Linked DNA regions of Homo sapiens. The protein of the gene in region 2 purifies or fractionates together with the protein of the main gene of each other region. This does not show direct contact. Each region holds a gene or a part of one and is shown on either strand. Other genes may lie near its edges.

Evidence for each region. Proteins that work in one complex are often made in the same cells at the same time.
Region 1: the proteins of INSRR (region 2) and ARHGEF40 purify together in Homo sapiens (affinity purification with mass spectrometry; one large-scale study listed by BioGRID and IntAct). This does not show direct contact.
Region 3: the proteins of INSRR (region 2) and ACVR1 purify together in Homo sapiens (affinity purification with mass spectrometry; one large-scale study listed by BioGRID and IntAct). This does not show direct contact.
Region 4: the proteins of INSRR (region 2) and SETD1A purify together in Homo sapiens (affinity purification with mass spectrometry; one large-scale study listed by BioGRID and IntAct). This does not show direct contact.

Annotation. Positions count from the first base shown.
Region 1 is NC_000014.9:21,069,030-21,073,103, forward strand, and holds the start of ARHGEF40 (rho guanine nucleotide exchange factor 40), read left to right. Parts: upstream 1-1,274; 5' UTR 1,275-1,367; coding exon 1,368-1,370; intron 1,371-1,798; coding exon of another isoform or gene 1,799-1,822; exon of another isoform or gene 1,823-1,843; intron 1,844-4,015; coding exon 4,016-4,074. UniProt on the Homo sapiens protein: May act as a guanine nucleotide exchange factor (GEF).
Region 2 is NC_000001.11:156,849,118-156,852,617, forward strand, and holds part of INSRR (insulin receptor-related protein precursor), read right to left. Parts: intron 3,075-3,500; coding exon 2,771-3,074; intron 2,672-2,770; coding exon 2,529-2,671; intron 2,318-2,528; coding exon 2,173-2,317; intron 344-2,172; coding exon 129-343; intron 1-128. UniProt on the Homo sapiens protein: Receptor with tyrosine-protein kinase activity. Functions as a pH sensing receptor which is activated by increased extracellular pH. Activates an intracellular signaling pathway that involves IRS1 and AKT1/PKB.
Region 3 is NC_000002.12:157,778,831-157,782,330, forward strand, and holds part of ACVR1 (activin receptor type-1 precursor), read right to left. Parts: intron 1,771-3,500; coding exon 1,507-1,770; intron 1-1,506. UniProt on the Homo sapiens protein: Bone morphogenetic protein (BMP) type I receptor that is involved in a wide variety of biological processes, including bone, heart, cartilage, nervous, and reproductive system development and regulation.
Region 4 is NC_000016.10:30,964,254-30,967,753, forward strand, and holds part of SETD1A (histone-lysine N-methyltransferase SETD1A), read left to right. Parts: coding exon 1-70; intron 71-358; coding exon 359-1,208; intron 1,209-1,347; coding exon 1,348-2,133; intron 2,134-2,566; coding exon of another isoform or gene 2,567-2,630; coding exon 2,631-2,807; intron 2,808-3,247; coding exon 3,248-3,335; intron 3,336-3,500. UniProt on the Homo sapiens protein: Histone methyltransferase that catalyzes methyl group transfer from S-adenosyl-L-methionine to the epsilon-amino group of 'Lys-4' of histone H3 (H3K4) via a non-processive mechanism.

The DNA.
Region 1 (4,074 bases), on a different chromosome or scaffold from region 2:
GCAGGGGCACACGCGTTCACGCCCCTCCGGGGACTATTCGGCTTTCCGATCTCCTCTCCTCTCCCTTCCGTCCACCCTTTAGAAGAGCTCACGGAGCTGCGGGGCTTCCCGGTGCCTGCTCAGAGGCCAGGCAGGGCATCTCCCCGCCGTGCCCGTGCCTCCCCCCGGGCTCCTGGGAGACCCCCCATCTGGCCTTCCTTTCTCATTCAGACACTGTCGGGGGACGCTCGGGGTTTGATGAGGGAGTGAGGCTAGAACTTTCGTAACTAGCCCACCCTGCTTTGTCTCCTGCGCCAGATACCCACCCATTCCCATGGCCACGAGCCCTAGCGGCCCTGCGGGACTCTATAGCCACCCCAACAGAAGGAAGGGGCTGGCATCCAGTACCGAATCCTCGAACTGGAGGCCTGGTGCCTTCCCTCTTCTAGCCGAATAGAGAGGTAGGGATGCGGAAGGGAAGGGCCACGGAGGAGAGAACTCAGAAAATGTCCGGCGAAATGCACGCCCCTACATAAGCATCCCGATCCGGGAACCCTGCCCCCTTGGCCAGGATGTCCGCCCCCTATCCCAAGCCTTCGCTGCTCCCTAACTCCCGCACACTCCCGCCTTCCCCAGGCAACACAGAGGAGCCCATTGTCAGCCCAGAGATTCCAGGCCCGAGGAGATGGAGGGAAAGGAGGGCGGGCAAGCCCCCGGGGGGTTGGGGAATCCCCTGATTTCCCGGCCCTCCGCTCTCTGCTAGGCAGGCAGGGGCCTGAAGGTCTCATTTGAGCCCTGGGTCCTGCCAAAGTCTAGAAACCGTTGAGAGAAGAGGATCCCGGGCGAGTTAGAGCGGGGAGGCTTTCCAGCCGCAGGAAGACCCCAGTTCTGGGAAGGGGCGGCCCAAGGGAATTCACGCACGCCCCAGCCTTTGGAGCATCCCTTGCCGAGGCTAAACTGATCCCGCGGGGAGCGAGGCCGTGGCGGGAAAAGAGGGGCATCCTCGGCTGGGCGGGCCTCCGAGGGTCAGGGTCGAGGTTACCCGCTGGAGGGCGGGGCGGAGAAGAAAGAAGGTTGCCGGTGAACGGGACGGATAGGCTGGGGACGCCCGGGGAACGGCAGAGATCTCGGCGCGGGAGACAGAGTCCCGGCAAGGGGTCCCGCGCGGAGGCGGGGGCGGGCGCTGAAGGGCGGGGCGGGGAGGGGCGGCCGTCTCGGCCCTCCCTGGCGGGGCCCCGCGGCCTGGAAGCCGGAGCGGGCCGAGCCGCCACCGCGGCCGGAGCTGTCCCTTAGCCAGACCCGGCGAGACACGAGCGGCGGGAGGGAGGCGGTGGCGCGCCCGGCCCCGCCCGCCCGACCAAGCGTCGGACGCGGCCCGGCGCCGAGCCATGGTGAGTCCAGCGTCGCAGCCCCCTGGGTCCCCTCGGCCTTCGCGCAGCCCGCTCCGGGCCCCCAAGTCCTCAGCCTGGTGCCTCCCGAGCCTGCCTCGGACTGTTCGGCCCCTCTGGGACTCTCCTCCCTCCCATCCCCCCTTCTTCGATTTGTCTGTCTGCCCGACTGTTTAGCTCTGTCCCCACCGGGTATTGCCCTCACCCTTTCTTCCTCCTCTCCTCCGCCTCCTCCCCCATCCTCCCTTGGGTCTCTCCCCTAATCCACACACCTCCCCGCTCCCCGCCCTCCTCTGTCCTGACCTGTGCCTTCCTTTCCTGGAGCTTCCCTCCCCCTCCTGGTCCGAGCTCCTTACCCGCGGGAGACCCCTGCGGGTTGGTCCTGCAGCGACCCTGGAAGAGGCCCGGCCCCTCGGGTCATGAGAACTGACCTGCATGGAACCACCATTTTCCATCCCTGTCCCCAACCCGGTGAGGCAGGCCCACCCATCCGGCCCTAGGGGACTGGCCACAGCTGTGGCTGGGCCGGGTCCCGGGGCATGGCCAAAGAGGGAAATTCCCGCAGAGAAAAAGAGCTGCCTCAGGATAGTTGGGGGTGCTTGGGGGGGAGCTCACAGTACCAGGGGGCGTGACACTGCCAGAGCCGACCAGAGTTTGCGGAGGAGGAAAGTGCCCCAGAGCTCTTGCTGCAGGGAACTGAAGGGCTGCCTCAGGGCACTCCTGCTACAGAGGGGAGGGAACACGAGCCGGAGCTCCCTGCAGGGACTAGGGGACCCTGGCAGCAGCAACTTGGGGCGCTGGACGCTGGAGGGTACGCTAAGGAGAAGCCCACACCAACAGGAGTGAACACTGCCCTGGGAACTTTCACTGCAGAGTACTCTGAAGCACCGCTGCGAGAGTGGGCACTGCCAGAGAGAGCGCCCACTGCAAAGAGGGCGGGGGCATGGCCAAGGGGCCGCTCGCTGCAGAGTGGAGGAGGGGGAGAGGCCTTGCCAGGGGGAGCTCACCGCAGGGAGTGGAGGAGGGGCAGGGGCACTACTGGGGCCGCCCCTCTACGGAGGGAAGGGCACCCTCTGGCAGGGAGGCTGGAGGAAAAAGAAAGAGGAACTGGGCCAGGGAGAGCTGACTCAGTCTCTCTGGTCTCCTCTCTGGTCCCCGCCGGCAGGAGGCTGGGTCTCCGTGCTCCCGCCCGCCGCCTCCCTCCCCAGACCCCTCCTCCCCTCCTGCCGCGGCCGTTTCCTGTGGCTGAGACTCTCGCTCAGCCATGAGCTCACCGCCCCTAATGGGTTGCAGCTGCCTCGCTGCTCAAGCCCTAGCTCCGCACTCCCTGCCTTGGAGCAGACGGCCCCACTCTGCCTCACCCCCGCCCATCTCCACCTTCCCCCCACCCACGCGCACTGCGTCCGCCTGGTCCCGGGAACACTGGGGGTCTGTCTGCTCGCCCACACACCTTGGGGCCGGGTCTGCGCGCTGACGCACTGAATGTCCCGTCTCTGGAGTGGTTGCCCTAACTTCCCAGACGGTCAAGACAAACGGGCAACTCTGGATGGAGCTCAGAGAAAAATAAGCTATTTTGTTTTATGGCAAAGGCAAGGTATGGGGGTAGGGAAGGTAGAGACCAAGGTAAAGGCTGCATTGAGTATCCCCTTCCCCATTTACAGCAAAAAAGAAAAAAAAATTCCAGTAAAAGGGACTTCAAAGACTGTCTTGAAAAAGAAGTTTGCAAAGGAATAGCCCAAGGGGTGGTTGTTTAGGTTAGGAGTTGGAGAAAGACGTCTCATTGACTCACTTAGGGAGGGGAGTCTGGATGAAGCAGGGCTGAGTCTTTTTGAGACTCCTAGTGGAGGTTGGCAGAGAGAGGTCCCACTGGAATCAGAAAAGATCAGCTCGAATGCGCACCATCAAGGCCTCCTCCTCCCTTCCCACAAGTTCCTCTTGTGACTTTTTTCTCTTTCAACTGCCCCCACCCGATTCTTTGTAATCCAATCCCACATGCTCTAAGATTGGGTGATTGCTTCAGAGCCACTGTGGGAGAAGGAAGAGGGATGCTAGAAAGACCCAAGACAGTCACAGACAGTCTTTCCATCCTCCTCTTTCCACCAAATGACCATCTCTAGCATATAAATGAGCATCTCTCTTTCACCAAATGATCATCTCTGGGACATAATTGTGGGTGATGGCACCTCCACCTAAGATGGGGAGCCCTGGATGGTGGGTCTTATGGGAAGGGATTTGCAGGATGGCTGTGTGGAAATCTCCCTCATCCCCTCGAGTTCTCAGCCATAAGCTCAGTCCCCTGATAGCCCAGAAGCCTGTCTTTTCTCTCCTGGGAAAGATCTATGCAATCACCCCAACTCACGAGCACCCGGAACAGCCCTGATCAGGGGCATTCACAACAAATTCTCCCTGGATCTCCAAAGCCAAGGTCTCAGAGCGGGAGTGTTGAGCGCCCTGCCAGGTTTGTGCACTCTGGCCCAGCCCCACTCCTGTTCTGGGCTCATCAGCCAGCATTTCCTGAGTGCTCACTTTTTGCCCACATTGTACAATCGGGGCTTTGGAGAACACAGCCAACCCCAGACCAGTGCAGCTCCCAAGGAGCCATGATTGGGTGATCTCTAGGGATCTGTAGCCTGGTCCTATCTCTACAGGAGCCTGAGCCAGTGGAGGACTGTGTGCAGAGCACTCTCGCCGCCCTGTATCCACCCTT
Region 2 (3,500 bases):
CATCCCATTCCCAGTGAGACCTCTGAGGAGAACTTCTCAGAGTGTCCCCCTCGAGCTTTCTCCCTCCCCCGGGTGTGCGTGTCTAGTGTGTGGCCGCGTGTCCACCGGCACTGGGGTTGGGGTCTCACAGGCGGCGCGGTCTCCGTTGGTGCGGGGGTTGATCTCAGCCTTGTTCTGCCGACCTCGCGTGCCTGTCACCTCCTCCAGTCGGTAGATGTGTTCCAAGCAGAGGCGCGGGTTGAAGGCGAAGTAGATCTTGCCCACGGGAATGGTGAGCCCCGCGGCCACCCAGGACCCTAGCTGTTGTAGGTTCTGGTTGTCCAGCACGTAGAGAGTGTAGTTCCTGGGGGAGGCCAGGGGACCTTGCTCTGCGGGGAGGTGGGGGCAGGGGGTGGGAAAGGGGATGGCTTATGGGTTCCTCCTGGAAGGGTTTTGCTGGGCCCGGGGAGAGGGGCACTCAGTGGCTGGCTCACACCAGCACACCGGGGGCATTCGTGCATACCCACTCTGTGCCACTGACCAGGAGTATGATGTCTGCCAAGTCACCCCATCTTTTGGTTTTCCTCATCAGTGAAATGGGGTCCTCAGCTTCCCTGCCCCCATCCTTCCCTCGACTCTCTTTGAACTGAGCACCTGCTATGTGCCAGACTCTGGAGGCTTTGGAGACACCAGGAGGAGTAGTACTCAGCCTGGGCCATTCCTTTCCAGCTGAGGTGTGGACACTCTCGGTGTACATGCAATGTGTCTGGAGACATGAGAAGCCACAGAGAGCCACTAGACTAGATGACTAGATGGTAACTTTTTTTTTTTTTCCTCACTCTGTCATCCAGGCCAGAGTGCAGTGGCACAATTGTGGCCCACTGCCGCCTTGACCTCCCGGGCTCAGGTGATCCTCCCACCTCAGTCTCTTGAGTAGCTGAGACTACAGGCATGCACCACCACGGTCAGCTAATTTTGTATTTTTTATAGAGACAGAGTTTCACCATGTTGCCCAGGCTGGTCTCTAACTCCTAGGTTCAAGTGATCCTCCCACCTCGGCTTGCCAAAGTGCTAGGATTACAGGCACGAGCCACCGCATCTGGCCTGGTTGGTTATTTATTTATGTATGTTTTGAGCTGGAGTCTCCCTCTGTCACCCAGGCTGCAGTGTAGTGGCACGATCTCAGCTCAGTGTAACCCCTGTCTCCCAGGTTCAAGTGATTCTCCTGCCTCAGCCTCCTGAGTAGCTGGGACTACAGGTGCCCACCACCACACCTGGCTAATTTTTGTATTTTTAGTAGAGATGGGTTTTCTCCATGTTGGCCAGGCTGGTCTTGAACTCCTGACCGCATGGTGATCCTCCTGCCTTGCCCTCCCAAAGTGCAGAGATTACAGGCAGGAGCCACCGTGCCCGACCTGGATGGTAATTTAAAACATTCTTTTTTTTTTTTTTTTTTTTTTTTTTTTTTTGAGATGGAGTCCCTCTCTGTAACTCAGGCCCTAGGCTGGAGTGCAGTGGCACGATTTCGGCTCACTGTAATCTCTACCTTCTGGGTTCAAACAATTCTCCTGCCTCAGCCTCCCAAGTAGCTGGGATTAAAGGCACGTGCCACCATGCCCATCTACTTTTTTTGTATTTTTAGTAAAGATGGGGTTTCACCACGTTGGCCAGGCTGGTCTTGAATTCCTGACCTCAAGTGATCCACCCGCCTCAGCCTCCCAAAGTGCAGGGATTACAGGTGTGAGCCACCGTGCCTGGCTCATTCTTTTTATTTTAAAAAATGCTGGCTACATTATAGGTAGGCCTTGACTGGCAGATGATAGGAATGGGTTTCAAACCCAGGCAGTCTTGCTCTGCAGCTGACAGGACCAGATGATGACAATTATAGCCAACTGTTATAGAGTTATATGTGACTGTAATTTATATTGTATATACTGTGTTCCAGGCATTGTTTTATGTGCTTTACACATAACAACTTGAGTAATATTCAAAACAGTCCTGAGAAGTAAGTAATGTTATATTAGCCCTATTTTACAGATGAGAAAACTGAAGACCAGAGAAGTTAACCTACTTAGAGTCACACGCCTAGTGAGTAGCAAAATTGGTTCCAGAGCCCATTCTCTTCACCACTGTTCTGGGAGTGTTGGAGGAAGGAGTGTAATAGAAGGAGCTGGTCAGAGGCCTAACCCTTACCCATCCACCATGGCGTCTCCCCGGATTAGTTTGAGGTTCTTGAAAAAGCCCAGGGACACGAGGGCAAAGGAGTGCTTGATTTTGAGGAAGCCAGTAATGGTTTCTACCAGCCCCAGGCTGTGCTGCAGCTGTGGCTCCAGGTTGTCTAGGGATGGGAAGACAGGGCTGGAGTAGGAGCAAGGAAGGTGATGGGTCTGTGGGGCAAGGGGGCTGAATGGGGGCCCCGGGAAGGTGGGCCCTCAGGACTGGGACCCAGGATGATGGAAAATTGTGCTGAGTTGGGTCATTGTAAGGGTTGTGTCTGGGAGGAAGGGTATGACCAGGAGGAGGGGTGTGGCCCCAAAGTAGGTACTGACAGCCCTGGCGAAGGTTGAGGATGAGGCTTCCCTCCACATGCGTGCAGCCCACAAGATCCTGTGCCGCCTGGATGGAGTCGATGGTCTTGGTGCCTACCTTGCACTCTTTAGGGCACAGCCCCTCGCACTTGTGGCAGAATATGCTAGCAGGAGCAAGCAGATGTCCTGAGCCTTGGACCAGTTTGGGCCTCCTCAGGCCTCCTCACTGCTCCCAGGGTGCCCCCCACCCTCCCTACACTCACCTGCTGCTATTACGGGTGAAGCCAGAAGGGCACTGGGCCAGGCAACTGCCCTGGTGTATGCCGAAGGTGGAGGCACGGCCGGGCACAGAGTGCAGGCTGGCACAGCGCTCAGCTGTGACACAGCGCCAGGACTCATACTGGTAGGTGCCTGGCGGGCAGGCCCACAGGCAGGCACCCTGGAAGTAGAGGTGGCGGCAAGCTACACAGGCACGAGGGTCTTCTGGCTGGCTGCAGCCCCCCAGGCATTCGGTGTGGCAGCACTCGCCCCTCGCTGTGCAAGCCATCCCATGGGGGCAGGGGCACACTGTGGGGAGAGTGGTGTGTTAGACGTTGGCCATGCCCCCTCAGTCCTGGCTGTCCTTCCAATGCTGGCCCCACCCTGTTTCTCTTGGGATGACACTCAATCTGCACCCAGGTCCCTCCCATTCAGATGACACTGGTTGCCGACTCTGTTCCCCTCCGATGGGATTCTTGAGGACAAGGACTGTGGCCGTCTGTGGCTCCCCACCTCCCACAGTGCCTAGTCGGGGGTGTCAGAGCTCAGGACAGAGCAGTGACCTTGTCCATCAGGGTTGTTGCTCTCCAGCCTGCTGTCCTGTCTATCCTATCTAGGCCTGGTGCCCAGATCATGGCTGGGCATGGTGCCAGGGTGAGCGGGCCAGCCTCTCCTGAGCAGCTAGGCCCAGGGGCCTGGGAGTGTGTGCAGGGAGGGGCCGACATCTGTCGTTTT
Region 3 (3,500 bases), on a different chromosome or scaffold from region 2:
CCTCTCTTCATTTACTCGCTTATTCAGACATTCATTCACTGATTCACTCCCTGGGTTCAGACCTCTCCATGACATTATGTCATCAGGCCCTGTTCTTCCCTACAGAGGCCTTACCCATTTCCATATTACTGGTCTCTTCAGCCATCCAATCACAAGCTTAACTTCCTTTACGTATTTGTTTAACTTTCCAAGCCCAACTAATCAACAGCTTGGCATACATCATACTCCATGGCATATGTCATTTGCATGAGAAAGTGTAAAACTAACAAAATGCAACGCTGAATTATAAATACTGTGGCCACGCTAATCAGATTAGAATGTCCTTAAATTCAAAAAAAAAAATCTTCTATTAAAACTCAAGGTCTAGCAGAGTGATCTGCAGATTAGAAACTTCACAGTTGGTATAATAATGTTTGTATGAATTCAGACATTTGTTTATGTCCATCCACCCAATTAATAAAAATTTAACTCACAAAGTATAACAGTAAATTTTATTCCATCAAGGACCCTTTTAGTTTTAACCATGTAAATACTTGATCTCCTTTAAAACCCTCTTTGATTATTCAATCCTATTTGCTTGTCAGAATTTAACCTTTTCCATATGCCTTAAAGTCATCACCATAACTTCAAAATTACTAGAACATGATCTTGCATCAGCTTTTTTGTTCTTCTGCCTCCTTTCTTGCTGGCTGACATTTCTAGTTTTGGATGCTCGTCGTTACCTCTCCTCCACTTTTTGGTTTGTTTCTTTTTTCTGAGTGCAAAATTAAATAACTAAACCTATTAAAAATGTACTATATGGTAAGAGAATAAATTTGGCTTGGAATGAGTTTACATAAATGTTTGCAGAGACTTTAAGATTGCAATTTAGGGCTCATTTAATAGGGAAACAGTTTCAGAGCTGGACTGGTTTCCTTAGCATATGCAATCTGTACTGATGGTAGAGAGAAGATTCCACAAAAACTACAGGGTTTGTGCGAAATCTCATCCTGCTTCAAATTTCAGTGATAGGGTCACTGGGCATCAGATATGGGAGAAGAGGTCAGTGAGCCTTCTTTTATCTCCTTCCTCATAAAACAGGAAAGGCATTCCACTCAGTCACCAGTCCGTTCTGTTTTCCTCCCTACACACTTGACACAGAGATGAGTATTTACTAGCAGAATTGTTTCAGAAATTATGAATGACATCATGGGTCAGTAACATAAAAAGGTATTGGGAGCTGTTCACCTGAGTCACAGCAACCAAGAGAAAGCTAACTGGTCAGCTAAGCTGTCCCCAAGATGGACATCACCTTGCTTACATTCCCCAAAATGCCCATCCTTCTTTTAGATGCCAAAAGGCTGTTCCTTTCTCTTCTTCACCCAGGGTGACCTTCCTTGTAGCTCTTCGCCTCTGATTCAAAATGTAGGTGGAATGCCTCATAGCTACTTAGATCTTTAACCCACACGGACCCAGGACAACACTAACAAAACCCCTTGATCTAGAAATAGAAAAGTCCATGGGAACCTTTAGTGGGCAGCTGGGCCGTGATGTTCCTGTTACACCAGTCCCCTTGGCAGCACTCCACGGCTTGGCCAGGGGACGGCGGGGTCTTACAGGTCATCTTTCCCTGCTCATAAACCTGGAAGCAGCCTTTCTGGTAGACGTGGAAGCCATCGTTGATGCTCAGTGAGGAAAAGCACTGCTGGCCTTCACAGTGGTCCTCATTACCGCAGGAGAGACCTTCACACACACACATGTAGAGTTTGGGGTTGACCTTGGGCTTCTCATCTGCAAAGGAGAGAAAGGAAGGGGAAAAAAAAAAAAAAGAGGAATTACCGTATGAGTTTCACCTTCATTGAGGGAATGACCATTCCAAACACCTCTATCAACAGAAAGTCAAGCTAAGCATCACCATCAACCATGAGGTCCACATTCTGTCACCTTGTCACCTAACCAACCAACAAATAATAATTGCCTCTCAACATAGCGATTCATTTATATAAGCTGTGCACCCTTTTAGATCATATTAGGACAAAGACTGGCTATCATCTGTCCACAGACTTCTGAAAATGAGCTTCTCCCCCTGTGGTGTTCATATAACCTTCAGCGTGATTGGCTCTAAGATCCCAATTACTGCATCAAAATAAAATGTTTTACTGGAACATAATGTTTATCACCTTTATTCTATTCCAAAAAAAAAGCTCCTAAATATATGGCAGCTATTAATACTAATTTTTGCTAGCTCTGTACAAATCCCCATCAACTCGTAAAACAAGGAATGCTGACATTCTTGCAGGTACATGGCAGAAATATACTACAAACTGAGTATCCCTTACTCGAAATGTTTGAGACCAGAAAAGTTTCAAATTTAAAAATTTTTCTGGATTGGGGAATAGTTGTATTTATCCTGGCTGAGCATCTCAAATCCAAAAATCCAGAATTCAAAATGCTCCAATGAGCATTTCTATTGAGCATTGGGTCAATGCTAAAAAAGGTTTGGATTCCAGAGCAGTTCAAGTATCAGGTTTTGGGATTTGAGATGTTCAACCTGTAATATAATAAGAGTTTGCAAGGCTGTACAATCTATAATTACAATCCATGGTACCAATATTTCCAGCTAGATGCCTAGACTAACTTTTTCACTAGTGGTAACACTAAAGTTTACATAGATTATAGTGGGAATTAACACCTGCTTAAGAATTTTTGGCTGGCAGGAAAAAAATGGTGCCAAATATGGAGAATGAGGGCACAAGGAGACCAAGAGAACCGAATAATGTTTGAACAGTAAGGTGACAGGTGGGACCACTGGAAGAATACACACCTAGGGAGTTCAAGGTGCAATGGAAAGAGGCAGAAACGGATGATCAGGGAAGCACATCTAATCACTCTGCTTAATTGTCTCTTTCTGAGAATACTTATTTGCATCTGCATTTTCACATTACTCTTTTCTCTTCCCTTGTCAGTATGATTAGTTTAGACTTGCTGGTCCCACAGTTTCTACTAGTGGGGAAGGAAACAGAGGATAAAATGTAAACAGCCAAGTCCTAGAGGCCACTGATTAGTTAGCTGAGGCCACTTTTGCCGAAGCACTGTTCATATTAGGAAATTCAGCTTTCAGAGCTCCCTCCAAAGGTCTATGGCACATAGAGGCTGCCTTCTAATCCCTGAACCCTCAGTAGTGGGTCTAGGAGATAAATGCTTCTTTCTTAAAATAACAGGTTGGGTGGCTGTGCTTTCCAGAGGAGACCTTAAGGTAAGGTCTTTGAAAATGTCAAGTTCATTTACACAGATTTGTGTGGGTGTGTGTAGAGATGTGGGTTATCTCAAAAAGAGAAAAGCATTCTTAATCTTTCTTCTTCCCTCTTCAAAGAAGTGGAAAAATAGTTCACTGCCCACTGTAATGTGGGTGCCTCGTCCCACAGAGTAAGTGCATGCAGACACACAGACACAGCCTTCTATTTATAATTGACTTGCTAGTTCCTTTGAAAACCACAAGGGGCTCATCCAAGAGCAAAGAC
Region 4 (3,500 bases), on a different chromosome or scaffold from region 2:
CCTCCCAAGGAACCCCCTACACGTCTCGGGGCAGCACCCCCTACTCTCAGGACTCTGCCTACTCCAGCAGGTACAGAGCAGACCCCGCCTGGGGCCCCGCCCGCAAAGTCTGGGAGCTGCCACTGGGAAGAAGATGCCCAGAGTCTGTCTCCAAGAGGGAGTTGGAAATAATTTGTCCTAGTTTCTCTGTGGATTCAGTCAACAAATTGCTGTCCTCGGGGAACACACTAGCTAGGAACCCAACATATAGCTCTTCTTTTGGAGGGCAGCATAGAGGGGCTTTGGGCCCTGGGACCCAGTACGCTGTGGTTTGGTCATAGAGAGCTGAGTCCAGCTAACTCCCCTGCTTCTTCTCCAGCACCACTTCAACCTCCTTCAAGCCCCGGCGGTCAGAGAACAGCTACCAAGATGCCTTTTCCCGCCGCCACTTCTCTGCATCTTCAGCCTCCACAACCGCCTCCACGGCCATCGCCGCCACCACTGCAGCCACTGCCTCATCCTCCGCCTCTTCCTCCTCATTGTCCTCGTCCTCCTCGTCATCCTCTTCCTCCTCGTCCTCTCAGTTTCGTAGTTCTGATGCAAACTACCCAGCGTATTATGAAAGCTGGAATCGCTACCAGCGCCATACTTCCTACCCACCACGCCGGGCCACACGGGAGGAACCCCCTGGAGCCCCTTTTGCTGAAAATACAGCTGAGCGCTTCCCACCTTCTTACACCTCCTACCTGCCCCCCGAGCCCAGCCGGCCCACCGACCAGGACTACCGGCCTCCTGCCTCAGAGGCTCCACCCCCGGAGCCTCCAGAACCTGGTGGAGGCGGGGGTGGAGGAGGGCCCAGCCCTGAGAGAGAAGAAGTTCGGACTTCCCCCCGCCCAGCCTCCCCTGCCCGCTCTGGCTCCCCAGCCCCGGAGACCACCAATGAGAGTGTGCCCTTCGCCCAGCACAGCAGCCTGGATTCCCGCATCGAGATGCTGCTGAAGGAGCAGCGCTCCAAGTTTTCCTTCTTGGCCTCTGACACAGAGGAGGAGGAAGAGAACAGCAGCATGGTCCTTGGGGCCAGAGATACAGGGAGTGAGGTGCCTTCTGGGTCAGGGCATGGGCCCTGCACACCCCCTCCGGCCCCAGCTAATTTTGAGGATGTGGCACCTACAGGGAGCGGGGAGCCAGGGGCTACCCGGGAGTCTCCCAAGGCAAATGGACAGAACCAGGTGAGGTTGGGGTCAGCCAGAGGAGGCACCTGGGCTCTGGGAGTCAGGGTTGGGCCTAGGGGAGAGGGAAGGGAACCAGATGAGAAAGTAGGGCTTGGGTCAGGCAGAAGCCTTCTGTGACCCTCTTCTGCCCCCGCAGGCTTCTCCATGCTCTTCTGGAGACGACATGGAGATCTCCGACGACGACCGGGGTGGCTCACCCCCTCCGGCCCCGACGCCCCCTCAGCAGCCTCCGCCACCTCCCCCTCCCCCGCCGCCTCCTCCTCCCTACCTGGCGTCCCTTCCTCTTGGTTATCCTCCCCACCAACCTGCCTACCTCCTCCCACCCAGACCTGATGGGCCGCCGCCCCCTGAGTACCCCCCACCTCCTCCACCACCCCCGCACATCTATGACTTTGTGAACTCCTTGGAGCTCATGGACCGACTTGGGGCTCAGTGGGGAGGGATGCCCATGTCCTTCCAGATGCAGACCCAGATGTTAACTCGGCTCCATCAGCTGCGGCAGGGCAAGGGATTGATTGCCGCCTCAGCTGGCCCCCCCGGTGGGGCCTTTGGGGAGGCCTTCCTCCCGTTTCCACCCCCGCAGGAGGCAGCCTACGGCTTGCCGTATGCTCTATATGCACAGGGGCAGGAGGGCAGAGGGGCATACTCACGGGAGGCCTACCACCTGCCCATGCCAATGGCAGCCGAGCCCCTGCCCTCCTCCTCAGTCTCGGGAGAGGAGGCCCGGCTGCCACCCAGGGAAGAAGCAGAGCTGGCAGAGGGCAAGACCCTCCCGACAGCAGGCACCGTGGGCCGTGTGCTCGCCATGCTGGTCCAGGAGATGAAGAGCATCATGCAGCGAGACCTCAACCGCAAGATGGTGGAGAACGTGGCCTTCGGAGCCTTTGACCAGTGGTGGGAGAGCAAGGAGGAGAAGGCCAAGGTGAGGCCAGCGCCTGGGACCGGGGAGCCCTGGGCTTTGCAGGAGGAAATGGGCCTCTGGCTCCTCCAGGCTGCACAGCTCAGAGGAGACAGGTGATGGAGGCGAGTGGAGAGAGGCCGCAGGCCCTGCAGGCCACCCTGGGTGGGCAGGGGAGTTGAGGGGACAGAGAAGCAGGCACAGATGGGCCTGGGAGGCAGCAGAGCTTTGTCCTGGCTCCATTCCTTGCTGGCTTGCAGTGGACAAGGCCCTTAGCTCTCTTCAAGCTTTGGTCTTCCATTTTGCCACTTGTGAAGTGGGAATGGTGGCTATTTCTTAAGACTGGTGGGCGAAATGACAGACTTTTGAGAAAATGCCGTGCGGGGGCTGGGACAGGTGTGACCAAGATATGGAGCAGCAAGTAGATGCGTTCTGTATTCCTGGGGTCCGGGAGTAGGTCTCAGGCAGGAGGGAATGCCTGGGTTCTGGGCGCTGGGGCTCAGCCCCACTGCTGCCTGCAGCCATTCCAGAACGCGGCCAAGCAGCAAGCCAAGGAGGAGGATAAAGAGAAGACGAAGCTGAAGGAGCCTGGCCTGCTGTCCCTCGTGGACTGGGCCAAGAGCGGGGGCACTACGGGCATCGAGGCTTTCGCCTTTGGGTCAGGGCTGAGAGGGGCCCTGCGGCTGCCTTCATTCAAGGTACTCAGAACTGTCGTTTTGTGGGGTAGGGTGGGGAGAGGGAGAGGGGGCCCCCTTCCTTGGGGTAGGGGTGGTCAGGAACCATGAGTGTTTGAGTTTTTTCTTTTTTTTGAGATGGAGTCTTACTCTGTTGCCCAGGCTGGAGTGCAGTGGCCTGATCTCAGCTCACTGCAACCTCCGCCTCCCGGGTTCAAGCGATTCTCCTGCCTCAGCCTCCCGAGTAGCTGGGGTTACAGGCACCCGCCACCACGCCTGGCTAATTTTTGTATTTTTAGTAGAGCTGGGGTTTCACTGTGTTGGCCAGGCTGGTCTTGAACTCCTAACCTCAGGTGATCTACCTGCCTTGGCCTCCCAAAGTGCTGGGATTACAGGAGTGAGCCACCGTGCTCTGCCTGAGTGTTTGAGCTCTAAACAGGCCCCATCTTTTCCCCATCCCCCAGGTAAAGCGGAAAGAGCCATCGGAAATTTCCGAGGCCAGTGAGGAAAAGAGGCCTCGTCCCTCCACTCCTGCTGAGGAAGATGAAGACGGTGAGCAGGGTCAGGCATAAGGAGAAGGGGTGTGCTGCGTGGGTTCTGATGGGAGAGCAAGAGGTAGGGATGAAGGGGTCAGGTCGTCCTGAGGGCACAGCCAGGTGGAGGTGCAGGGTTGAAATGCAGCAGTTCTGAGAGGTATGGGATGCACCAGGTAGAGTT